Homo sapiens: one gene and its partners. Changing the gene in region 6 together with the main gene of any one other region gives a genetic interaction. Each region holds a gene or a part of one and is shown on either strand. Other genes may lie near its edges.

What was found.
Region 1: of ATG10 (region 6) and PFAS, changing one suppresses a phenotype caused by changing the other (phenotypic suppression), as found in Homo sapiens cells (one large-scale study listed by BioGRID).
Region 2: of ATG10 (region 6) and OGDH, changing one enhances a phenotype caused by changing the other (phenotypic enhancement), as found in Homo sapiens cells (one large-scale study listed by BioGRID).
Region 3: of ATG10 (region 6) and IARS1, changing one suppresses a phenotype caused by changing the other (phenotypic suppression), as found in Homo sapiens cells (one large-scale study listed by BioGRID).
Region 4: of ATG10 (region 6) and WDR74, changing one suppresses a phenotype caused by changing the other (phenotypic suppression), as found in Homo sapiens cells (one large-scale study listed by BioGRID).
Region 5: of ATG10 (region 6) and DHX37, changing one suppresses a phenotype caused by changing the other (phenotypic suppression), as found in Homo sapiens cells (one large-scale study listed by BioGRID).
Region 7: of ATG10 (region 6) and PDPK1, changing one suppresses a phenotype caused by changing the other (phenotypic suppression), as found in Homo sapiens cells (one large-scale study listed by BioGRID).

Annotation. Positions count from the first base shown.
Region 1 is NC_000017.11:8,255,789-8,259,288, reverse strand, and holds part of PFAS (phosphoribosylformylglycinamidine synthase), read right to left. Parts: intron 3,485-3,500; coding exon 3,379-3,484; intron 3,023-3,378; coding exon 2,882-3,022; intron 2,766-2,881; coding exon 2,641-2,765; intron 2,455-2,640; coding exon 2,326-2,454; intron 1,483-2,325; coding exon 1,351-1,482; intron 1,219-1,350; coding exon 1,090-1,218; intron 1-1,089. UniProt on the Homo sapiens protein: Phosphoribosylformylglycinamidine synthase involved in the purines biosynthetic pathway. Catalyzes the ATP-dependent conversion of formylglycinamide ribonucleotide (FGAR) and glutamine to yield formylglycinamidine ribonucleotide (FGAM) and glutamate.
Region 2 is NC_000007.14:44,672,627-44,676,126, forward strand, and holds part of OGDH (2-oxoglutarate dehydrogenase complex component E1 isoform 1 precursor), read left to right. Parts: intron 1-1,160; coding exon 1,161-1,315; intron 1,316-1,784; coding exon 1,785-1,931; intron 1,932-2,551; coding exon 2,552-2,642; intron 2,643-3,343; coding exon 3,344-3,500. UniProt on the Homo sapiens protein: 2-oxoglutarate dehydrogenase (E1o) component of the 2-oxoglutarate dehydrogenase complex (OGDHC). Participates in the first step, rate limiting for the overall conversion of 2-oxoglutarate to succinyl-CoA and CO(2) catalyzed by the whole OGDHC.
Region 3 is NC_000009.12:92,283,698-92,287,197, forward strand, and holds part of IARS1 (isoleucine--tRNA ligase, cytoplasmic), read right to left. Parts: intron 2,922-3,500; coding exon 2,839-2,921; intron 2,143-2,838; coding exon 2,025-2,142; intron 1-2,024. UniProt on the Homo sapiens protein: Catalyzes the specific attachment of an amino acid to its cognate tRNA in a 2 step reaction: the amino acid (AA) is first activated by ATP to form AA-AMP and then transferred to the acceptor end of the tRNA.
Region 4 is NC_000011.10:62,836,791-62,840,853, forward strand, and holds the start of WDR74 (WD repeat-containing protein 74), read right to left. Parts: upstream 2,801-4,063; 5' UTR 2,781-2,800; coding exon 2,717-2,780; intron 2,639-2,716; coding exon 2,532-2,638; intron 2,446-2,531; coding exon 2,324-2,445; intron 1,310-2,323; exon of another isoform or gene 1,188-1,309; intron 630-1,187; exon of another isoform or gene 161-629; intron 1-160. UniProt on the Homo sapiens protein: Regulatory protein of the MTREX-exosome complex involved in the synthesis of the 60S ribosomal subunit. Participates in an early cleavage of the pre-rRNA processing pathway in cooperation with NVL.
Region 5 is NC_000012.12:124,982,632-124,986,131, forward strand, and holds part of DHX37 (probable ATP-dependent RNA helicase DHX37), read right to left. Parts: coding exon 3,465-3,500; intron 1-3,464. UniProt on the Homo sapiens protein: ATP-binding RNA helicase that plays a role in maturation of the small ribosomal subunit in ribosome biogenesis. Required for the release of the U3 snoRNP from pre-ribosomal particles.
Region 6 is NC_000005.10:81,978,523-81,982,022, forward strand, and holds part of ATG10 (ubiquitin-like-conjugating enzyme ATG10), read left to right. Parts: exon of another isoform or gene 1-327; intron 328-977; exon of another isoform or gene 978-1,156; intron 1,157-2,385; exon of another isoform or gene 2,386-2,895; intron 2,896-3,500. UniProt on the Homo sapiens protein: E2-like enzyme involved in autophagy. Acts as an E2-like enzyme that catalyzes the conjugation of ATG12 to ATG5. ATG12 conjugation to ATG5 is required for autophagy. Likely serves as an ATG5-recognition molecule. Not involved in ATG12 conjugation to ATG3.
Region 7 is NC_000016.10:2,544,521-2,548,020, reverse strand, and holds part of PDPK1 (3-phosphoinositide-dependent protein kinase 1), read right to left. Parts: intron 1,194-3,500; exon of another isoform or gene 1-1,193. UniProt on the Homo sapiens protein: Serine/threonine kinase which acts as a master kinase, phosphorylating and activating a subgroup of the AGC family of protein kinases.

The DNA of each region.
Region 1 (3,500 bases), on a different chromosome or scaffold from region 6:
TAAAAAGAGAAAAAAAATCTGACTTGAGAAAGAAAATGCAGATTAAAAATAATAATAATTAACAAAAAAGAGAAAAAAAAGTTTACCTAAAAACGGTATGCCATGTTACATTGACAGTAGCTTCATATTATCTCATATTTACCACGTCTTTTTTTTTTTTTTTGACAGTGGTGCGATCGCAGTGGTGCGATCTCCACTCACTGCAACCTCCACCTCCCAGCTTCAAGTGGTTCTTGTGCCTCAGGAGGCTGGGACTATAGGCATGCACCATGACGCCTGGGTAATTTTTTTTTTTTTTTTTTTGAGATGGAGTCTCCATCTGTCGCCCAGGCTGGAGTGCAGTGGTGGGATCTCAGCTCACTGCAAGCTCCACCTCCTGGGTTCACGTCATTCTCCTGCCTCAGCCTCCGAGTAGCTGGGACTACAGGTGCCCGCCACCACACCTGGCTAATTTTTTTATTTTTTTAGTAGAGACGGGGTTTCACCGTGTTAGCCAGGATGGTCTCGATCTCCTGACCTCGTGATCTGCCCACCTCAGCCTCCCAAAGTGTTGGGATTACAGGCATGAGCCACCATGCCCGGCAGATGCCTGGCTAATTTTTGTGTTTTTAGTAGCAACAGGGTTTCAGCATGTTGGTCAGGCTGGTCTTGAACTCCTGATCTCAGGTGATCCACCTGTCTCAGTCTCCCAAAGTGCTGAGATTACAGGTGCGAGCCACCCTGCCTGGCCCACCACGTCTTGATTGCATTATTTTCTCTTGTGCTTATTTTATTCTCATGCTGTTTTGTTCATCATGGCTCCCAAGTGTACAAAATTCCTGGATAATATTGCCAGTAAGAGGCTGTGTGGATCGTGTAGCAGGCTATGCCATCTAGGTTTGTGTATGTACAGTCTATGAAGTGGGCACAATAATGAAATTACCTAATAGCCACATTTCTCAGAATGAGTTGTCCATCATTATGTGACACATAAGATAAGCCAACATATTAAAAACTAACCACTGAAGTGTTCCCTAAGTTCCCTCCCTGTAGCCATCCTGTGCTGGGGAGAAAGCTGGCTGGATCCAGAGAAAGGTGGCAGGCTCTTACCTGGCTCTGGGGCCTCCTTGCTTATGTGGTCAGCTTCCATGGACCCAATGCCCCCACTAAACATGATGGGCTTGATCCACTCACGCCGCTGGCCGTCTGGGAGCTGGAGGCCCAAGGAGCGGGCGAAGCCTGGAGTGTGAACATCAGAGGGACCTGTCACTCAGTTCCCCCAGTGCTCGCCCAATAGCACAGCCCCTGGGTCGCACACCCCACCCACAAGCCCCTCTGGGTGTTTGTCATCCCTCCACACCCCAGCCTCACCAGCCAGCACTGGTTCCCCAAACTTGTTGCCATAGTCAGAAGCTCCATTACTGGCTTCAATGGCAACCTCCAGGGGCCGGGCAAAATTCCCAGGATACTGGAAGCTTGGATCCTCCCAGGGCAGATTGTAACCTGGGAGGGAAGGAGAGAGAACTGGATGAACTGAATGAACTGTGAAGACAGGCCGGAGCAGCCTGCATCCTTCAGGAAGAGTCAAGGCCACCAAGGACCACCTGCATGGTTGCAATGTTCCACTTCAGGAAGTCCTGCTTTAGGAAGCCCTAGAGCCTGCAGTGAGGCACTGGTCTTCTTTCCACCACCCACACCAGCCTTCCCTCTGAATCTCGCAATCAGAGTTACACAGGCTTTCTGTTTTTTTTTTTGAGATGGAGTCTCGCTCTATCACCCAGGCTAGCGTGCAGTGGCGTGATCTTGGCTCACTGAAAGCTCCGCCTCCCGGGTTCACGCCATTCTCTCGCCTCAGCCTCCTGAGTAGCTGGGACTATAGGCGCCCGCCACCACGCCCAGCTAATTTTTTGTATTTTTAGTAGAGACGGGGTTTCACCGTGTTAGCCAGGATGGTTTTGATCTCCTGACCTTGTGATCCGCCCACCTCAGCCTCCCAAAGTGCTGGGATTACAGGCGTGAGCCACCACGCCCAGCCAAGTTTCTCAGGCTAAGAAACCAGATTTGAGGGGCAGGTACTGATCATAAGACCAACCCAATATCATGCTTTCTGGCTGAATGAAGGCTAGTTTTTAAAGAAAATCGTAGACCTGCAAAAGCAGTCTGGCCACCTCATCTCCCCAGGTCTACACTTATGACCATAGTTAGTGAAAGGCCAGCTATCCTAGAGCCCTTCCTCCTGAGAAAAGGCACACAGGATAACCCTATGGACCTAACAGATAGAAGTTTGCTGCCTGCCAGGACAAGGAATCTGGAAGGGAAGGTGGATAGAGAGGAAGGAGATGGAACCTGGAATATGCAGATTTCCAAAGCAATAGCCGGCAGTGCCAGCCACCACGTGGGCCCCGCGGCCTGTGCACTGGACATCTCGAATCCGGCCCCCTGTGCCAGTGGTTGCACCACTAAAGGGGCATACTCCTGCAAAGAGAGAGTGGGGAGAGGTCTGGGTGCCTCAGAGACAAACCCCCATCTCTGACCACCCCCACTGAAAATAAGGACAACCAATTTCCCTGATTATTTTCCCCAGGCCCACTCCAGGGGCCTGGGACCTTTGCCCTACCCTATTCTGTGATCTCACCTATTTCTCCAGGGAACCCAGCTCACCTGTGGGAAAGTTGTGAGTCTCTGCTGTGAAGACAACATGTCTCAGCCCTTGCTGTTGCTGGAAGCGGCTTGGCCGTGTGGGGTCCTCAGGCCGTAGGAATCGGACTTCCTTTCCCTGGATTGCACTGTGGACATACCCGTCATGGACCTTGCTTCCTTTCTGGGACCTACACTAACCCAACCAGGGCCTGGGGCCTCCCCTCCCCGGGTCCTGACGCCAACCCAGTCTAGGGCACAGCACCTGCTGTTATCACAGAATTTGAGGACGTTGTTGGGGTTCGAGGATTCCTGGGTGCTCATGATGGACTCAAACAGTGAGTGCACCAGCTTCTGCCCATCCACGTGGAGCTGGCCCTTGAAGAACCAGTGTCGGCTGTGCTCGCTGCAGGGGGCGATGCAGGGAGGGGAAGGCAGGTGGAAACGGGGTCATTTCTTAATGCCATGTCTTCTCACCAGCATTTAACAGCAGAGTTACAGCCAAATTCATACTTAGATGACAGATCAAAATATATTCCAAAAAGTCATAATCTTCAAGTATTCTGTCATTTTGGACTATCCAGAGCCAAAGTGAAGATAAAACCAAGATTTGAATGTAGACTCCTTGATGGATGACGGGAGCCCAGGCCCTCAGAGACTCAGGGAGGCCCCTAAGCCAAGGGAGGAACATGAAGGTGAGCCCCTGTGGTCTCTCCCAACACCCATGGGCTCAGGTATGGGAACAACCCCATTTCTCCTCACCTATTGGACTGCGCCAAGTCAAAGGCCTCCACAGTGCTCGGGTTCCGCTGTAGCTCCTGGAAGCGCTTGGTGTAGAAGTCTAGGTCCCAAGAGTCTAAAGCCAGACCTAGGAGACAAATCCA
Region 2 (3,500 bases), on a different chromosome or scaffold from region 6:
ATTTCTTTTTGTTTTTTGTTTTTTTTTTTTTTTTGAGATGGAGTCTCACTCTATCGCCCAGGCTGGAGTGCAGTGGCATGATCTTGGCTCACTGCAACCTCCGCCTCCTGGGTTCAAGCGATTCTCCTGCGTCAGCCTCCTGAGTGGCTGGGATAACAGGCACATGCCACCATACCTGGCTAATTTTTGTATTTTTAGTAGAGACGGGGTTTCACCATATTGGTCAGGCTGGTCTCAAACTCCTGACCTTGTGATCTGCCTGCCTCAGCCTCCCAAAGTGCTGGGATTACAGGCGTGAGCCACCGCGCCTGGCCCCGAGATGGACTTCTAAGAGCCTGGTGCCTCCTCTCGCTCCTGGCACCTCTCCTCTTCCTGAATTCCTCCCTGCCGAGCTCTGCAGATCTGGATGCTGCTTCCTCACCCAGCTGTGCAGTGTGAACGTGGTACAGGACATCTTGATCTGCTCAGGATCCTGACTTTTGTCTTATGGGCAATCTTGCTTCCTGAGGCAGAAGGATCATTTGAGCCCAGGAGTTCAAGACCAGCCTGGGTAACATAGTGAGACCTCATCTCTCCAAAAAATTCAAAACATGAGGCAAGAAGATCACTTGAGCTCAAGAGGTTGAGGCTGCAACGGGCTCTGATAGCGCTACTGCACTCCCGCCTCGATGACAGAGACCCTGCCTCAAAAAAATAAATAAATAAATAAATAATTTTTAAAACCTGCAAATCTTTAACAGCCATTGAGCCTATGACACCCTATGGGCATTTCCTGTCATGGGTGCTGGTACAGGTCTGACCTTGATGACAGCCTGTCTTCCCTGGGGAAGGACCCAGTTCCACAACTGTTGCGGTCTGTGCTTCTTGCCACAAAGGTAACAGAGTAGAACTGGGGTTGTCCCTTGGCCTGCCCTTGGAAGGCTAGGAGGTTCTCTGTGTACAAGTGACCCAGGTCCCTGAAGGAAGCACTTCATGACCCTATGAAGAGGGCTTCTGCCTGGCACCCACTCCATCCCATCCTCAGTCACACTTGATTGGAGTACATTTCAGAACAAGCCTCCTGCTTATCCCCTCCTTCTGGCTGAATGGGCAGTCGGCAGTCTTCATTCAGCCAGGCCTGGTTAGAAATCCCCTTGACTGTGTGTTTCTGTATGGAATAGATGGCCTACTGCCAGCATATTGGGGTGGAGTTCATGTTCATCAATGACCTGGAGCAGTGCCAGTGGATCCGGCAGAAGTTTGAGACCCCTGGGATCATGCAGTTCACAAATGAGGAGAAACGGACCCTGCTGGCCAGGCTTGTGCGGTCCACCAGGTATGGGTCTGGCCCTGGGCCATGGGGCAGACATTCCCAGGGAAGCAGTGACCCTGTCTGTGTTGATCGGGCCTGTGTGCAGCCTGTTGGCCGAGGTGAGAGGGGGTTTGGGGTGGTACAGGCAAAGCTCCATCTGCACATGTGTGAAGAGACACCAGACAAGTAGAGTCAGCCTTCAGAGCAACCTCCGCCTCCTGAATTCAAGTGATTCTCTTGCCTCAGCCTCCTGAGTAGCAGGGATTACAGAGGCACACCACCACGGCTGGCTAATTTTTATATTTTTAGTAGAGATGAGGTTTCACCGTGTTGGCCAGGCTGGTCTCGAACTCCTGACCTCAGCTGATCTGCCCACCTCGGCCTCCCAAGGTGCTGGGATTACAGGTGTGAGCCTCCATGCCTGGCCAGAATCCCCTCTTTTTGGTCAGGAAGAGTGACATTGCCCTTCAAGGTGGCTTGGTTCCCTGTCCAGGTTTGAGGAGTTCCTACAGCGGAAGTGGTCCTCTGAGAAGCGCTTTGGTCTAGAAGGCTGCGAGGTACTGATCCCTGCCCTCAAGACCATCATTGACAAGTCTAGTGAGAATGGCGTGGACTACGTGATCATGGGCATGCCACACAGGTACAGCCAAGGGCGCGCCCAACCTGGTTTCTCACCATCCCTGTGGGCTGTGTAGGAGGCACCAGGTAAAGGCACTGAGAGAGCAGCTGTTTCCTCCTTGAGTGCCAGTTGTGAGTCTGGGCTCATCTGGTACCTGAGGGTGTATTGCTTTGCAGGGGATTCTCACATTGCCTGCCTCTGGAGGACTGCAAAGTCATGGTCACCTCCAAAGCCACATGTAGTTTCAGACTGGCATTTGGCCTTACAGTGCATCTTTATGAAAATTAAACCCAAGTTCCCTTGTTGGGGTCTAACCTGGAGGGAAGGCTGCTTCCTGACATTGAAGGGGAGGCCAAGACTGTGAAAATAGGGAAGGTGTGGGGAGGGAGAAGGGTAAGGAAGCCTCAGGCCCATGGCATTGCTGCATCTTCTATCTTTCTGCTGCCCACTGTGGCCTTGATTGCCCAGCACGGAGAGGCTCGGTTCCCACATTAGCTCCAGTTTACAGCTATCCTTGGGCTGCAAACCGAGGAGGTGCCGTGTCCTGGGGGGAGGGGGAGGGGGGGATTGTAACACCCTCATCTGCCATCTGGAAACCATGACCTCAGGCTCTGCTCACCCTACTCGCCCATACGTTCCAGAGGGCGGCTGAACGTGCTTGCAAATGTCATCAGGAAGGAGCTGGAACAGATCTTCTGTCAATTCGATTCAAAGCTGGAGGCAGCTGATGAGGTGAGGCACCTGCATAGAGACACATCCAGCATAGCCCCAACTTACACAAGACCCCTGGCTCCACTTCTTTCTTAGAATGACTTACGGGGGGTTGGTTCTTCTGTACCATTTGTGATTTGCCTTCCTTGTTGGGAGAATTTTAGTGTTGGGACAAAGGTGGCCAGTGGCCCACCTCCTGGTCAGAGGTCCAGCAGCCCCACTCTGAGTGCAGGGGTGTGTCCCCTCTGGCTGAGGGACGTTCTCCTTATGCCCTGGATGGGAATGATCCTGGGAAAAGGCCTCCATATCCTTCTGCGTTGGGTTCCTGGGAGTAGAAATCCCATATAAGGCTGGGCATGGTGGCTCACATCCGTAACCCCAACACTTTGGGAGGCTGAGGCAGGCGGATCACGTGAGGTCGAGAGTTTGAGACCAGCCTGACCAACATGGAGAAACCCCATCTCTACTAAAAATACAAAATTAGCCGGGCGTGGTGGCGCATGCCTGTAATCCCAGCTACTCGGGAGGCTGAGGCAGGAGAATCGCTTGAACCCAGAAAGTGGAGGTTGCAGTGAGCCGAGATCGCGCCATTGCACTCCAACCTGGGCAACAAGAGCGAAACTCCATCTCAAAAAAAAAAAAAAAATTCCCGTATAAAAGGGCTCTTTTGGAGACTGAGCATCTCCTTGGCCAGGGTGCAAATTCACTGTTTACCCCATCAGGGCTCCGGAGATGTGAAGTACCACCTGGGCATGTATCACCGCAGGATCAATCGTGTCACCGACAGGAACATTACCTTGTCCTTGGTGGCCAACCCTTCCCACCTTGAGGCCGCTGACCCCGTGGTGATGGGCAAGACCAAAGCCGAACAGTTTTACT
Region 3 (3,500 bases), on a different chromosome or scaffold from region 6:
TATAACCAACTGAAACGTGTACAAGACCTAAAAGACAACAGTCACCATGTGTTTAAGTCTTGGTAGATCCTGATTTAAAAAAATAAATAAATAAAAATAAAATATAACCCCTTGGGAAATGATTAAACCATTAGAAATATGAACTGATGATGTTCAGGAATTACATAATTTGAGAATATTAAAATAAAAACTATTAAAGGTGGCTAGGTGCAGTGGCTGACACCTGTAATCCCAGCACTTTGGGAGGCCAAGGCGGGTGGACTGCTTGAGCCCAAGAGTTCAAGACCAGCCCAGGCAACATGGTGAAACCACTCCTATAGAAACACATAAATTAGCCAGGTATGGTGGTATGTTCCTGTAGTCCCAGCTACTCAGGGGGCTGAAAGGGGAGATCACTTGAGCCCGGGAGGTCAAGGCTGTGGTTAGCCGAGATCGTGCCACTGCACTCTAGCCTGGGTGACATAGCGAGATCCTATCTCAAAAACAACAACAACAACAAAAAGGTAACTGCTGATGACTTTTTAAGGTGTGACAACGAATGCTAACATGGCAATGTTTAAAGAAGATAAAGATTATTTATGAAAGATCTATACTGGATTATTTCTTGATGAAATAATATGATATCTGGAATTTGTTTCAGAATTGGAAGGAAAGTGGGAAAGAATATGTGTATGAATGAGGCAAGATTAGCCAGTCATTGGTGCTGGGGGCCTTAATGGGCCTACAGAAATTAATTATACCATTCTGTTTACTTTTGCATGTCCCTGAAACTGTCCACATTCAAGTGTTTTAAAAAACAACCAAACAGGCCGGGCGCAATGGCTCACAACTGTAATTCCAACACTTTGGGAGGCCAAGGTGGGTGGATCGCAAGGTCAGGAGTTCAAGACCAGCCTGGCCAAAATGGTGAAACCCTGTCTCTACTAAAAATGCGTGGTGGTGGGCACCTGTAAACCCAGCTACTCCAGAGGCTGAGGCAAAGAACTGCTTGAATCGGGTAGGTGGAGGTTGCAGGGAGCCAAGATCGCGCCACTGCACTCTAGCCTGGGCGACAGAGCAAGACTCTGACTCAAACAAACAAACAAACAAAAACCAAATATAGCAATATATTAAGATTTGACAAAGGTAAGCCTTGGAAACCTTGTGTTTACCATATCATTCTCTACATTGTTAAGTGCTTAAAATATTTTACTAAAAAAATACAAACATGAGCACAGAGAGGTGGTAAGGAGATAATAGAAATCATCATACCTGCCTTACAAGGATTTACAAAGATCAATCAAACAGGATATGTGAAAGCATTCTATAAATAAAACGTGCTTTGAAAGGCAAATTTTACTAATGTAATTTTCAAACCTAGGCCATGAAACAAGAATTCCAAACAAGTCAACATCCTTTAAAAACAGAGGGTCAGATAAACTCTCAAAACTGAAAACAACTCAGTATACACACGAGAAGAGATGGTTCACATTTCAGAAGACTTACTAGTATATAATATCTGTCTAGATATGGTATAACAATACACTCTGTAAACATCAAACATGTCTAAACACCTCAATCATAGCAACAACAACAACTGATTCTATCTCATCAGAGGAAAAATAATACCATTTGGCATCTCAAATTAATTTTTTTCCAAATACCGTTAACAAATAAATGATATCATGAGGTCCCAGATAAGGCATAAAATTACTCAACCCTTAAGAAACGATGACTACAGGAAGTATGTCAAAGCTGGACTTGTTAACCCAACAGAGAGGCACAAAAATATGGTCAAAACAAGCAAAACCTATCACATTAAGACACATCATAAATCCAATGTGGAAAAAAAATCCCTCATCTTAACAGAGCCTTAGTATACTAACTGGCAATATTTCCAGCACTCAGTAAGAAGTGGTCAAAGTGGTGGATGTCGTGGGCAACATTCCACACTGGGTCTACTTGGGAATACCTACTGTGATCATAACTACTCAGCTTCCACCTACAAAACTCAATGCTGAATAATGTCTCTACATTTCACGTACCTTATAATTCTGGTGTGACTCGAAGTTGGAAAGTGGAGTGTTACATGCCGTAGAGAAGGGCATGACTTTCACACCTCTATAAACAAGGCCTTTATCATAGAGTTGTTTGAAGACCCACCTGGTAAGAGATGGAGTTTCACAATTACAGAACAAAATTCTATTTCTGAAAATGCAAACATTTATGCCATTTTCTTTTTAGAGTTTCTGTCTGCCAAATAAGTGAAAAAACAATGTCTTTCATTGGGAGACTGGCTGGTAAATTATAACAGATCAATATAGTAAGACATCAGGCAGACATTAAAATGCTAATATCTACTGATATCGAATGATATTTAACACATAATGTTAAGAAAAGCAACTGGCAGGCTGGGCGCAGTGGCTCACGTCTGTAATCGTAGCACTTTGAGAGATCAAGGTGGATGGATCACCTAGGTCAGAAGTTCGAGACCACCCTGGCCAACAAGGTGAAACCCCATCTCTACTAAAAAGACAAAAATTAGCCAAGCATGGTGGCGGGCGCCTGTAATCCCAGCTACTTGGGAGGCTGAAGCAAGAGAATCGCTTGAACCTGAGAGGCGGAGGTTGCAGTGGGCCAAGACTGTGCCACTGCCCTCCAGCCTGGGCAACTGAGCGAGACTCAGTCTCAAAAAAATAAAAATAAAAGTTCTACATTCAAAAACAAACCTGTTCCCAAAGATTTTCAGAGAAATAACGATGGACTCAAAAATAAACTGATTCATGCTAGTGCATTTTTCCAATTATCAATACAACAGAATAGAATATTTACCATATTTACAATTTTAAATAAACCTACCAGACTGATTCCATGAATTGTGGATACAGAGTTTTATAGTCATTGTCAAAGTCAATCCATCGGCCAAGTCTGCTAACAGTAGACTTTAAAATATTAATATTAGAACAGTATTAGACAATGATATTTATAATTGTACATCAATGTGTGTTTATTTCTGTTGTCATCACAAATGAAAATTTTGGGAAAACAGAATAATCAATGGTACAAGTAAATCTATACTGCCAACAACATATTATGTAAGGTTAAGAACCAGTTTTCTCGGCATTCATCCTACATGCACAAAATGTTATTTACAAGTATAAATATTCACTTATAAAAGTCTACCAAAACCACCACTTGGCAAATATCACAGGCATAATTATTACTGGCAAAAACCATCCATGGATGTTAAAATTAATAAGTGAATGTATGACAAAAAAAAGAATATTTGGAAAGAATCTCCCCACAAGATACTTATTAATTACAAAGGAAAAACTACAACTTTACAAAGCAGAAAGCTGACAGCACTTTAACCAAGTGAACAAAGTTATCACCATCAATGTGACATAGCCGCAACACATGCCACCTGATATAATGCATTGAGAAGGGCATAGCATCACTTCTGTGGCATTGTCACCAAAAATGCATAACCTAAATTAAATCAGGAAACCTCACACATTGAG
Region 4 (4,063 bases), on a different chromosome or scaffold from region 6:
GGCCAGGCACAGTGGCTCACGCCTATAATCCCAGCACTTTGGGAGGCCAAGGCAGGCAGATCACCTGAGGTCAGGAGTTCCAGACCAGCCTGGCCAACATATAGTGAAATCTTGTCTCTACTAAAAAATACAAAAATTAGCTGGGTGTGGTGGTACATGCCTGTAGTCCTAGCTACTTGGGAAGTTGAGGCAGGAGAATCGCCTGAACCAGGGAGGTGGAGGTTGCAGTGAGCCGAGATCATGCCACTGCACTTCAGCCTCAGTGACAGAGCAAGACTCCGTCTCTCAGAAAAACAAAAACAATAAATGAATAACTCACCAACACCAATAAAAGTGCACATCTCTCAACCTAGCACTTAAAGCCCTTTACATTTAATCCCAACCTAATATAGTGTTCATCTTGTATTAAAATGCTTCCTTGGCCGGGTGCAGTGGTTCACGCCTGTAATCCCAGCATTTTGGGAGGCTGAGGTGGGCGGATTGCCTGAGGTCAGGAGTTCCAGACTAGCCTGGCCAACATAGTGAAACCCTGTCTCTAATAAAAATACAAAAAAAACTTAGCTGGGCGTGGTGGCGGATGCCTGTAATCCCAGCTACTCAGGAGGCTGAGGCAAGAGAATCGCTTGAGCCTGGGAGGCAGAAGTTGCAGTGAGCCGAGACTGTGCCACTGCACTCCAGCCTGGGCAACAGAGTGAGACTCCGTATATAAAAAAAAAACAAAAAACAAAAAAAAAAAAACGCTTCCTTGTTATCAACTTCCAAATCAAATGCTATTTATCCTATTTATGTACCCTGTAGCATGCCTCCAGTCCTTGGCCTCTCCCAGGCAGTACCCTCTTTCTAGAATACCCTTATCCCCTTCTCCACCAGTCAAAATTCTACCCATCCCTCAAGAACCAGTTCAGACATCCAGTCCCCCCCACAGGCTTTCCAGACCTCACCTGTCAGAATTACCACCACCAAACCTATGCAGCCTGCTTCACAGCCCTCTTTCATCATCTTTGGAAGAAAGCAAGGCCAGTCATCCAACCACTTAGCACCTTCCTAATCTTTGCTTTCAGAGCTACATCACCTTGTTGGTGGTTGAGCTCAAGTTGAGCCCAGGAGTTTGAGACTGGCCTGGGCACACAGTGAGACCCCATCTCTATAAAAAACTTAAAAATTTAGCTGGGCAGGGTGACACCTGCCTGTGGTCCCAGGTACTCAGGAGGTTGAGGCGGGAGGATCGTTTGACCCCGGGAGGTTGAGGCTGTAGTGAGCCATGAATGCACCACTGCACTCAAGCCTAGGTGACACAGTGAGGCTCTGTCTCAAAAAATATAAATGAATTAATAATGAATTAATGAATGCATGCTTAAAACTTTTTTTGTTGTTTTTTTTGAGATGGAGTCTTGCTCTGTTTCACAGACTGGAGTGCACTGGTGCGATCTCTGCTCACTGCAACCTCTGCGGGACGGATTCAAGCGATTCTCCAGCCTCGGCCTCCCAAGTAGCTGGGATTACAGGCATGAGCCACCACACCCGGATAATTTTTGTATTTTTTTAGTAGAGAAGGGGTTTTACCGTGCTGGCCAGGCTGGTCTTGAACTCCTGACCTCAAGTGATCCACCTATCTCGGCCTTCCAAAGTGCTGGGATGACAGGCATGAGCCACCACACCCAGCCTTGCTTAAAACTATTAAATGACAAGCAGGCACAGTGGCTCACGCCTGTAATCCCAGCACTTTGGGAGTCCGAGGCAGGTGGATCACCTGAGGTCAGGAGTTCGAGACCAGCCTAGCCAATACGGTGAAACCCCGTCTCTACTAAAGATACAAAAATAGCCGCGCGTGGTGGCAGACGCCTGTAATCCCAGGTACTTGGGAGGCTGAGGCAGGAGTATCGCTTGAACCCGGGAGGCGGAGGTTGCAGTGAGCCGAGATCGCGCCACTGCACTCCAGCCTGGGCAACAAGAGCGAAAACTCCGTCTCCAAAAAAAAAAAAAACAAAAAACAAACACACACACACACAAAACTATTAAATGACTTGCCCATGGTTACTTAGAGGATTATAATGGAGTCAGGTGAAAAACCTTAGAGGATGAGAACTTTTTGAAGGCAGAAATTTTACCGGCAGCCCCTGTACTTCTCCCAGTGCCTGGAATTCAGTAGGTGTTCAATAAATGTGTGTTACAGGTATGAACTACATAAGGCAGAAACCCAGGTCCCTGTCACCCATTCAAAGCCGTGTCACTAAGAGTTTGCCTGTCGCCATCATTCCAGTATCCTCAGGGAGCATCAACGCTCTCCCTTCGGCCCTGAGTTTAGCGAGGGGATTGGTCTTACCCGTCGGCCTGGGCGAGGCCACGGAACATGCCCTCCCCGCCCGGGCAGTGTCTCTGACCCTGGAATATGCCATCCTCGGTGCTGAAGTGCTTCACCGTCCTGTCCGCGCAGCCCACCAGCATCTGCGGCAAAGAAGGGCAAGATGGCGAGGAGAGCGAGGCTGCTGCGCCCCAGGCCCCCAGCTCCGGCCCGACCAGGGGCCACTCACCTGGGTCTCGCCGCCGGTGCCCCAACACAGGGCGCTCACTGCCTCCTCGCGCCGCGGCTGTCCTCCGGCCGTGAAGTTCGCCGCCTGTTTTCGCTGAAGATTTACCCCTGAGAGACGAAGGCGTCAGTCACGCCAGGGGCGCGAGTGCACCCCTGCACTTCCCGACGCCCGAGCCTGCCACCCACCTTTCAAGATCCCAGTCTCGGTGCCGACCCACACATGGTTCCAGCGTGCAGCAGCAGCCGCCATGACAAAGCCTGGAGGCAGACAGTTCACACTTCCGGCGCAGCGTGTGCGTCACCAGCGGGCGTCGAGTCCGATGCAGCGCAGTGTAGTTGCTGGAAGTTTGAAGAGCCGAAACAGTAAAGCTTCCATGCTTGTTTTGCTTTACGAAAATGAAACCAGGAGGTGCTTGTTTATGTAGATCGGAAGAATACATTGATCATTTTGCACTTGGGGGTGAAAAGCACCTTTCCTGGACTGCGTGGCCGGATCAAGCCAGCCCTAGTCTGTCTCCCGGCTCCATTATGTAATATGTGTTCTGGACTGTTAGACAAGAAACAACAAACGATTTAAGAAACGATTTAAGAAACACTTTAGAAACGATTCAAATCATTAATGATGTGTGGGGCTTCGTTCTGGAATATAAGTCACGAAAGAAAGATGGGAAAAGGAAACCGACGATTTTTTTTTTCTTTTGAGAGAACTTCGCCCTTGTTGCCCAGGCTGGAGTGCAATGGCGCGATCTCCTCTCACCTCAACCTCCGCCTCCCGGGTTCAAGCGATTCTTCTGCCTCAGCCTCCCAAGTAGCTGGGATTACAGCTGGTATTACTAAACCACCGCGCCCGGCCTCGTTTACTCTTCAAGAGGCGGACAGCGAGGCGCGGTGGCTCACGCCTGTAATCCCAGCACTTTGGGAGGCCGAGGCGGGCGGATCATGAGGTCAGGAGATCGAGACCATCTTGGCTAACACGGTGAATCCCCGTCTCTACTAAACATACAAAAACAAAACTAGCCGGGCGTGGTGGCGGGCGCCTGTAGTCCCAGCTACTCCGGAGGCTGAGGCAGGAGAATGGCGTGAACCCGGGAGGAGGAGCTTGCAGTGAGCCGAGATTGCGCCACTGCACTCCAGCCTGGGCGTCAGAGACTCCGTCTCAAAAAAAAAAAACAAAAACAACTAAAAGTACTCTGTGCTATGCTACATGAGAAACGCAGAGAAAGTCATCGCTCAGTAGAAATACAGTAATAGCGCATGCGTAAATAGGAGAGGGAAGTCGCTACTTTACCTAGAGATTAACACAGAAAAGCAACAAATTACCAGTTTACAAGTAAACCCTTTATCTAACGCGAAGATTTATTTATTTTTTGAGATGGAATCTTGCTCTGTCTCTCAGGCTAGAGCGCCCGCCACCAGGCCTGATTCACTTTTCTTTTGGTTTTTTAGTGAAGACGGGATTTTTCACACCATGTTAGTCAGGCTGGAATTACCCAATCCGCCCGCCCCAACCTCCCGAAGTGCTAGGATTTCACG
Region 5 (3,500 bases), on a different chromosome or scaffold from region 6:
GGAAACGAGTGTATTATGCATTTGCCATCACGACCCTCTCTTAAGAAGGGAAGTGAGACTGTAATAAAATTTCAGCATCATTAACACCTGGAGTCTTTAAAATCGGCGGTCAAATTGCAATTCTACTGGTGCATGGTGTTCTTCCATCAACAGACACAGCAAGCTGGCTTTTTTAACCCCTTTTACAGAATCTGGGGTTGTATAAATGAGGTTCTCTGCAGCAGGGTATCACAGTAGAAGATTATGGCCCACCAGATGTCCATCAACAGGAGATGAATAAAGCACAGTTCAGTCATGTACAGCAGTGCTCCCTAGCTGCTCTGAGGAAGGAGGCGGCTTTGTGTGTCTGATGTGAATTGGTCCCCGAGCTACCCTGAGCAATGCTGTGTGCAGGGGGTGTACCCAGTTGGCTTCTTTTAGTTGGGTGAGGGTTTCGTGAGTTTTTACTTTATTGTTCTTGTAACTGTACATATAGGTTTTATACACACTTCTTTTGAGACAGAGTGTCGCTCTGTCACCCAGGCTGGAGTGCAGTGGTGCGATCTTGGCTCACTGCAAGCTCTGCCTCCTGGGTTCACGCCATTCTCCTGCCTCAGCCTCTCCAAGTAGCTGGGACTACAGGCGCCCGCCACCATGCCTGGCTAATTTTTTGTATTTTTAGTAGAGACGGGGTTTCACCGTGGTCTCGATCTCCTGACCTCATGATCTGCCCGCCTCGGCCTCCCAAAGTTCTGGGATTACAAGCGTGAGCCACCGCGCCCAGCCTACACACTTCTATGTGTGTATTACACACACACACACACACACACACACAGAACAAGGTATAGCACAGCGGGAAAGCACCCTAAATAGGATTTAAAAAGGACACACTGACCAGGCACAGTGGCTCACGCCTGCAATCTCAGCACTTTAGGAGGCCGAGGCGGGTGGATCACCTGAGGTCAGGAGTTCAAGACCAACCTAACCAACATGGTGAAACCATGTCTCTACTAAAAATACAAAAATTAGCCGGGCATGGTGGCGCATGCTTGTGGTACCAGCTACCCGGGAGGCTGAGGCAGGACAATGGCTTGAACCTGGGAGGCAGAGGTTGCAGTGAGCTGAGATCATACCACTGCACTCCAGCCTGGGCAACAGAGCAAGACCTTGTCTCCAAAAAAAAAAAAAAAAAGAACACGCTCACAGGTGAGTAAGTCTTCCCCCTACCAAGGCTCTGGGGACTGCCCATCCACGGCTGCTGGAGAGAGACCCTCAAGCCTCCTGATGTGAAGACACAGCTCCCACGTGCAGTGGCCTCACCAAAAGTCAAACTTGATTCTCATGAAGGCTCCAGGTCAGGGTTCCTCAATCTCAGCACTATTGACATTTAGGGCCAAATAAGTTTTTGTTTTTCTGTGCATTATAGGCTGTTAACAGCATCCCATGGCTCCACCCGCCAGATGCCAGCAGCACTCCCAAGTTGTCACAGCCCAAAATGTCTCAAGACACTGCCAAATGTCCCTGGGGCAGCGGGGGGCGGCGCGCAAAACTGTTCCGGATGACAGTCACTGCTACAGATCCAAATACTAATGTACAAAAAGCTCAGATGGCAGAGGAGCATGTTTAAAATAAAATTTTAAGGCTGGGCGCAGTGGCTCACGCCTATAATCCCTGCACTCGGGGAGGCCGAGGCAGGTGGGTCACTTCAGGTTGGGAGTTCAAGACCAGCCTGACCAACATGGAGAAACCCTGTCTCTATTAAAAATAACAAAGTTAGCCGGACGTGGTGGTGCATGCCTGTAATCCCAGCTACTCGGGAGGCTGAGGCAGGAGAATCACTTGAACCCGGGAGGTGGAGGTTGCGGTGCGCCGAGATCATGCCATTGCACTCCAGCCTGGGCAACAAGAGCAAAACTCCATCTCAAAAAATAATAAAATAAAATAAAAATTTAAAAATCCAGAAGGTAGGAAACTGTAAGACAAACAACAAATAAACTACAATGGGAAAAAAAAACAAGAAAAGGGTGAGGAGTATCCATGAAACAACAGGAAATTTAACCACTTGCTAGATGTTTGATATTAAAATAAAAGATTAGGTGTGCTAATGGTATTCTGGTCATTTTTAAAAGTCTCTACTTATAGAGATACAAATTGAAATATTTATGGATATAATGCTATGTATAGTGGGTTAAATGGCAGCCTCCCTCAAAGACGTGTTCGTATCCCAGAACTTGCGAACGTGACCCTATTTGGAAAAAGGTTTTGTAGATGTAATTACGTAATTACGTGAAGGATCTCAAGATGAGATGATCCTGAGTATCTGAGCGCGACCTAAATCCAATGAGAAGCGCCCTTCGAAGAGACACACGGAGGAAAGGCCGAGGGAAGAGGGAGGCAGAGATTGGAGTGACGCAGCCACAAGCCAAGGGAACGCCTGGAGCCGCCAGGAGCAGGAAGAGGCCAGGAATGACCCTCCCCTGAGCCCAGTGAGGAGCACCGCCCTGCCAATACCTTGATCTCGGACTTCTGGCCTCCTAAGCTGGGAAGGAACAAATTTCTATTGTCCTAAGCCCCTCAGTTTGTGGTCATTTGTATGACATCCCCAGGAAACTAGTACAGATTCACTGTATGTGGGATTTGCTTCAAAATGACCCAGAGGTGGGAAAGTGACCAGCAGTGGAGATAATCCAAGATTGACCAGGGGCTGATCAATGTTGGAGCTGGCGATGGGCACATGGGAGTTCATCATACTGTTCTCTTTACTCTTGCAAATGTTTGAATTTCCCTTGCAAATGTTTGAATTTCCCATGACAAACTTTTTTCCTCTATGAAAAAATTAAGGTTGGCTGGGCATGGTGGTTCACGCCTGTAATCCCAGCACTTTGGGAGGCCGAGGCGGGCGGATCACGAGGTCAGGATATCAAGATCATCCTGGCTAACATGATGAAACCCCGCCTCTACTAAAAATACAAAAAAAAAAAAAAAAAATAGCCTGACGTGGTGGCACGCGCCTGTAATCCCAGCTACACAGGAGGCTGAGGCAGGAGAATCACTTGATACCAGGAGAACCCAAGATCATTTCACTGCACTCCAGCCTGGGCAACAGAGCAAGACTCCATCTCAAAAAAAAAAAATTTTTTTAAGGTTTGGTAGAGCCAGAAAAGATGTCGGGGGTGGGGGAACAAAACAAAAAAGAAAAAAAAATTAAATTTAAATTAAAAAAAAAAAAAGAAGAAAAAACAAGGAAAAAAGTTTGACATTCTCCGGAACAGTTCAGTTCAGTTCCTCTGCCATAGTAGCTGCATTTCAAGTGCTCAACAGCAATATGTGGTTAGTGGCTACCGCACTGGACCATGCACTGGAATTTTCCTCATTCCAGAAAGTTCTATTAGTTGCACCACAGAGACACCCTCAGGAGGAGAGAGACCCCCCATCTCTCTCTATGCTGGAGAGCCACTTGCAGACCCTGCCCGAGTGGGGTGTACCTGGCTCTTTTTCTCCTTCTGTTCTAAGATTTTCTG
Region 6 (3,500 bases):
ATCAGCTCAAATTGTCATCAGTGGTGGAACATTTTTTCTTATGTGCTTGCAGAGTTTTATTAAAAAATTATCTTTTGATAAAAGTAATGATACTGGTATCAGAAAGATTGGATGTCATATAGATCTGTGGTTTTTTTTGTTGTTGTTTGTTTGTTTTAGAGACAGGATCTTGCTGTCTCCCAGGCTAAAGGGCAGTGTCACGGTCATAGCTCACTGCAACCTTGAATTCCTAGCCTCAAGTGATCCTCCTACCTCGGCCTTGCAAAGTGTACATCAGTTTGTGTAAGAAAGGTCCAAGAAGTGAACAGGCCTGAAAGTTGAAGAAAGGTACTATAAATGAGAAGAGGTGTATAGAATAAGTCCATTCAAATTTTTGAATTTTTCTTTTTTTTTTTAAGATGGAGTCTCGCTTTGTCGCCCAGGCTGGAGTGCAGTGGCACAATCTTAGCTCACTGCAACTTTCGCCTCCTGGGTTTAAGTGATTCTCCTGCCTCAGCCTCTGGAGTAGCTGGGACTACAGGTGCACATCACTGCACCTGGCTAATTTTTGTATTTTTAGTAGAGAAGGGATTTTGCCATGTTTGCCAGGCTGGTCTTGAACTCCTGACCTCAGGTGATTCTCCTGTCTCAGCTTCCCAAAGTGCTGGGATTACAGGCGTGAGCCACGGTGCCTGGTCTGAATTTTTCTTTTATTCATTTACAACTTAAAAAAAAATGTTTACTGGCTGGGCACGGTGGCTCACACCTGTAATCCCAGCACTTCCAGAGGCCGAGATGGACGGATCACGAGGTCAGGAGATCGAGACCATCCTGGCTAACACGGTGAAACCCTGTCTCTACTAAAAAATACAAAAAATTAGCTGGGCGTGGTGGCGGGCCCCTGTAGTCCTAGCTACTCGGGAGGCTGAGGCAGGAGAATGGCGTGAACTCGGGAGGCGGAGCTTGCAGTGAGCCGAGATAGCACCGCTGCACTCCAGCCTGGGCAACAGAGCGACACTCCGTCTCAAAAAAAAAATGTTTACTGTTTGCCTATCTGTTATAGATGCTAAGATACGAAGTGTAAATCAAATCCCCAGACATTGCAGACATTGCTCTATCATCTGGCATTTGTTGCAGTGGGTGAAGATGGCAGAGGCTACCCTGATTTTTGCTAATTGTAGGTAAACCTTTTTTTTTTTTTTTTTGCCTGCATCTTTTTTTCTTTCTAGTCTTTAAATTAAGATATTCCTGTAGGCTATGTTTAGGCATAAGTTTCTTTCCAGCAGCTTTGTTTTTTTTAGAAACATGGTGAATTCTTTCAATTTATAGGTAAATATTTTAAATCTTTTTTTTTTTCCATCTTAGAACAGTTTTTCAGTTGTACATTTGCTTATGATTGTAGTTCAGAAATTCCAGTTATTTGTAGGTTGGACCTGTGTTCTTTGTCCTTCCATCAAACAATATGCATTATTTTCATCATGGTCTTTTTTCTTTTGTGTGTTTGGAGAGGATCTTATGTGCTTATACACTGAAACACGAATGTGATTTTTTTCCAGCTTCTATACATCTCTCTGTTGCCTTGAATGTAGAATTTTTATCTCTACTGTTACGTGTTTGAATTTCCTTCCAGTTTTTTCTTATCCAGTTTCCTTTTTCATCTCAGCTGTTTTTCCTTCCTCATCTCTTGCTTTTAGAGGTCTTTCCCTTTCTCTTTTTCTTTTTAAAATTGGGAACATAGAGTAGATAATTCCTCGGTTTGATTTCCATATTCCTAGTGTAAGTCCATTACAGGAGCAAGCTTTCCCTCTTCCTGTTTATGGTAGTTCCCCTCTTTTCTTATGCAAGAGCTTCTTAAAGGTCTTGTGTTGTTATTAATGTTTTTGGTTTACTTACCTTGACAAAAGAGGGGCATGTTGACTGGTCAGAGTGACCAAGTGTTCCTTCGTCTCTCTCACTACACTTGGAAGCTGGAGGAATCTTCCTCTTTATGTTAGCTTGGAAAGCAGATGAATGGGTACAACGAAATTTATGAAGGATAGATCATTTTCTATACTTAGGAGAGGTCTTCCTTTCCTAGTGTTGAATCTTTCGGTCCTGTAACTATAATGAGGGGAGTGTTTTTGTGTGATTTGAAATAATTTATAGTTTTTTTTTTTTTAGTTTTTTGGGGTGTTAGTGGTGAGACTGTACTATGCTGAGAGCTCATTCTGTTCCTGCAGCTACCTGTCGCTCGCTGCACAGTACTCAGTGCACCTCAGGGCTTTACCTTCCACATCTGGCCATGCACACTGCACTACTGGGAGAGAACTGCCTTGAAAGAGAATTACCAGTGGAGCTAGAAACCAGGAGGGGAGGGGCAACTCAGGATCTGTTTCTCTGAAGGGAATGGGAGAGAGTGAAATGACCCTCTTTCCCCTGACCTAGTGATAGAGAGGTCAGAGCAAGCCTCAGCTACCAACAGAGATTCCTCATTTCCAGCCAGGTACAGTGTTGCCTCTCATTTAAACTTTGATTTGGAATATGTATTCCAATGGGAAGGCAAGGAGGGAGAATTGAGCCTGCTGGTCATCTGTTGTTAGGACTGATACGACTTCTCTTCTGATGTGTCTCTGTGCTATTTTATTGGATTGCCCAGGGCCATGCCTTCTGTGTCCCACCCAGGCTGCCAAATGTCTTGAAATCCAGGTCTTTTACCAGCCCTGTCAAAGTGATTCATCTTTTGTCTAGGGATCATGCTAATCTTTTAGCATGATTCCCTTTGAAAGTATCCCAGGTGCTAATTAAAAGTAATTATTTTGGGTCTTCAGAATCAGGTTATTTTTCTGGCCAAGGCCTAGGATTCCACATTTGAATTTGCACTGTGGGTGCTTCTTTGCTGTCTAAAATTTGAGGACCACTGCCTAAGGACCTTGCTAGGTAAGTGATTAAATTAATCTGAATCAATTCAAGCCAAATTGCCATAAAAGTAGTGGGTTGATGTTTAACTCTCCTACCTGATAGTGCATGTTTTTTAAAAAAGAGTCTACACTTAGAGTTATAAATAATGTGGAATTGTTGCTAGGAGGGACAAGTATTCAGGAAATTGCCTACTTTATTAGTCAAAAATGATTTTTAATGTTTAAATGTATGCATCGCATGTTCTGTGGTAATCACATTTTTGTAAATGATCTTAAGTTCTGGGAAATTCAGTTATATTTCTTATAGTGTTTTAGTCCTATTATGACTTTGATGTACATTGATTTATAGATTCATCAAATCAACGTCTCCAACTAAAACAATAACAAAGAATTAGTTCTACACACATTAGATTAAAAATCACATTAAACAGTATGGAGAGTGGTAGTGAAAAAATTGTTTTCAATTAAAAAGGATCATTTAAACAATGATTATATACAGTGTTAGAATTCACTAAGGCTGCTTTTCTGGAAAGATATATTTGAACAGCAGCAGAATAAGCTTCTTCTATCCTTCTAGTCTAAGGGCTAACTTACAGTTTGGAAAGACTACCCTCACTTGGAAAA
Region 7 (3,500 bases), on a different chromosome or scaffold from region 6:
CTCAGGCAACCCAGACCTCCCCGAGTCGCCACCCCAGCCAGGAGAGCTCCTCCCCTGCTAGTCCACGTTGGGGCCCAGACTCTGCCCGGCTCTCTGAAGCAGCCCCACAAAGGCCGGTCACCCTCTCCTGCTCAGACACTAACTACCCTCCCTCTATGGGCACCATCTGCAACGGCCGTGCTATTGACTGTTTCCCTTCTGCCCCTGGGGCTCAGAGAGGGACAGGAGCATCAGGTGGACCGTCCCCCTTCAAGCTGTAGAAGCCATCTTTTTCACACAACATTTCCTCAGGCCAGGAGCATGGGGCCCGTTCTGTTCATAACCACTTTTCCTAAACCAACCGGGGCCGTCCTCACCCTTTCTGCCCCAGGCACAAAGCTCAGCGCCAGCAGCATCTGCACAGGAGAGCTTGCTAAGATTTTTTTTTAAGCATCATTTTGAGCTTCCGACTTTTTACGGAATGAGAACGCAATGCGTTCACCAAGAAAATCTATATTCAGATGCACATTTTAAACTAGATATCTGATAATAACCAGGTACGTACATACAATCAAAAGACTGTAATTCTGACCGATGGAAAAAAGCCATGAAAGACAAATGCCAGCCTGCAGGAAGAACATGTGAGTTACCCATGGAAAAGCAGCCGGAAGCGCTCCGAGCATCTGAGCGTCTGAGCCCGTGCTCTGAAGGAGCTGTGTACTCCCTCAGCCTGGCGTCCAGAGTCAGGCCCAACTGGGAGAGAGAAACGCAGACGAACCTAGCGCTCGCCCTCAGGAAGGACCCCCTGATGAGGTCCACATGGGGGGAAATGAGCAGCCGTCAGCCTTCCTAGCTCGTAAGTTGGGAGCCTGCTCACTAACCTGCCTCCCCAGGGTCTGGCTGCTGCGGCTCTCCAGATCAAACCTTCCCAAGAACAGGGCTGAGCAAAGCCAGCGCTCCATTCTTCCAAAGACTGATCTGTCCCCATCCTTTCCCACAGGGGAAGTCCAAGCAGTGCTGTGTGCCAGCCAGCACTGGCACACGGTGGGTCTGAAGGTCAATTAGCCCCGCCCCCACCGAGGTCGGAGAGCTCTCACTCACTGAGCCCTGGGCCTGGGTGCACAGCGGGGACTCTGAGACAGGTGGGCTGCTGAGATCCTCACTGCTGGGCTCCCCAAGGACCATCAGTCACACAACCATCCTGCGGATATAGCTGCAGCTCTACAGGTGGCTGCACCCACCCACAGAGCACACGTCCCTTTTGCCGCCACAGGACACCTTAGAAGCTACAGCAAAGTCAAGGCCTAGGAAAAGCCTCATGGCACCTTGCCCAAGCAGGAAAGAGACCAGGAGAGTAGGGCCCCGCTGTCAGGAAGGAAAAGCAGCTTAAGGTTAGAAGGGCCACTAAGGAAGGCCGGGCACGGTGGTTCACACCTGTAATCCCAGCACTTTGGGAGGCCAAGGCAGATGGCTTGAGGTCAGGAGTTCAAGACCAGCCTGGCCAACATGGTGAAACCCCATCTCTACTAAAAATACACAAATTAGCCCAGCATGGTGGCAGGAGCCTGTAATCCCAGCTACTCATGAGGCTGAGGCAGGAGAATCGCTTGAACCGGGGAGGTGGAGATTGCAGTGAGCCGAGATCGCGCCACTGCACTCCAGACTGGGCGACAGAGCGAGACTCTGTCTCAAAGCACTTTGGGAGGCTGAGGTGGGTAGATCACGAGGTCAGGAGTTCAAGATTAGCCTAACCAAGATGGTGAAACCCCGTCTCTACTAAAAACACAAAAATTAGCCGGGCGCAGTGGTAGGCACTTGTAATCACAGCTACTCAGGAGGCTGAGGCAGGAGAATCGCTTGAACCCGGGTGGCAGAGGTTGCAGTGAGCCGAGATCGCGCCACTGCACTCCAGCCTGGGTGACAGAGTGAGACTCCATCTTGAAAAAAAAAGTTACCTTTAGCTCATCATCTCCTAAGCAGTATTCTTGCCATAAATACTTAGCCTGAACCTAATCTAACAAGGAAACAATGAGACAAATCCAGATTGTGAATCCTGTATTTATATAAAATACGAGACAACTACCCTCATATTTTAAGAAATGCTGGCCAGGTTGCTGTAGCTCATGCCTGTATTCCCAGCATTTTGGGAGGAGCAGGTGGTAGGATCACTTTAACCCAGTCCAAGACCAGCCTGGGCAACAAAGCGAGACCCCATCTGTACAAAAAATTTTAAAAATTATAATTAGCCAGTGCTGGGCATGGTGGCTTACGCCTGTAATCTCACGCTTTGGGAGGCCAAGGCGGGTGAATCATGACATTAGGAGTTCGCGACCAGCCTAGCCAAGATGGTAAAACGCCGTCTCTACTGAAAATATAAAAATTAGCCGAGTGTGGCGGTGGGCGCCTGTAATCCTAGCTACTCATGAAGCTGAAGCAGGAGAATTGCTTGAACCCAGGAGGCGGAGGTTACAGTGAGCCGACATCACACCACTGCACTCCAGCCTGGGGAACAGAGCCAGACTCCGTCTCAAACAAAAAAAATTAGCCAGGTGTGGTGGCACAGGCCTATAGTCCCAGCTACTCAGGAGGCTAAGGCTGGAGGATGGCTTGAGCCCAAGGGAGTTCAAGGCTGCAGTGAGCTATGATCATGCCACTGCATTCTAGTTTGGGCAACAGAGCAAAACTCTGTCTCTAAAAAAAAAAAAGAGAGAGAAAGAAAGAAGAACAAGAAAGAGCTTTGAGGAGGACAGGTGACCACTGAGGAAGGCTGCACGTCACCTTTGCATTAGAAAATGCCACGTTACAATAAAATTCCACCTCTACTAAAAATGCAAAAATTAGCCACGACTGGTGGTACACACCTGTAAGTCCCAGCTACTTGGGAGGCAGAGGCAGGAGAATCACTTGAACCCAGAAGGCGGAGGTTGCAGTGAGCCAAGATCGCACTACTGCACTCCAGCCTGGGCAACAGCACGAGATTCCATCTCAAAAAAAAAAAAAAAATGCAATGTTAATGCTATCTCGGATGTGATGATGAAGAGGTTGTACAGGTGACAGCTTCTGAGCTCAGAAGGCATCTGGAGAAGGATTCTGGGGTGAAATGCTATCATGTGTGTGACTTACTTTCAAATAATAAAAATAATAGAAAAAAATTTTGGGCCAGGTGTGGTGGCTCATGCCTGTAAATCCCAGCACTTTGGGAGGCCGAGGTGGGCGGATCACGAGGTCAGGAGATCAATTCCATCCTAGCTAACAGGGTGAAACCCCGTCTCTACTAAAAATACAAAAAAATTAGCCGGGCATGGTGGCAGGCGCCTGTGGTCCCAGCTACTTGGGAGGCTGAGGCAGGAGAATGGTGTGAACCCAGGAGGCGGAGCTTGCAGTGAGCCGAGATCGCGCCACTGCACTCCAACTTGGGCGACAGAGCGAGACTCCGTCTCAAAAAAAAAAATTTGGGGGAGGTGAGGGGGTAATGTATACAAGCAAATATGGAAAAGGTTAACAACTGGTAGAATCCAGGT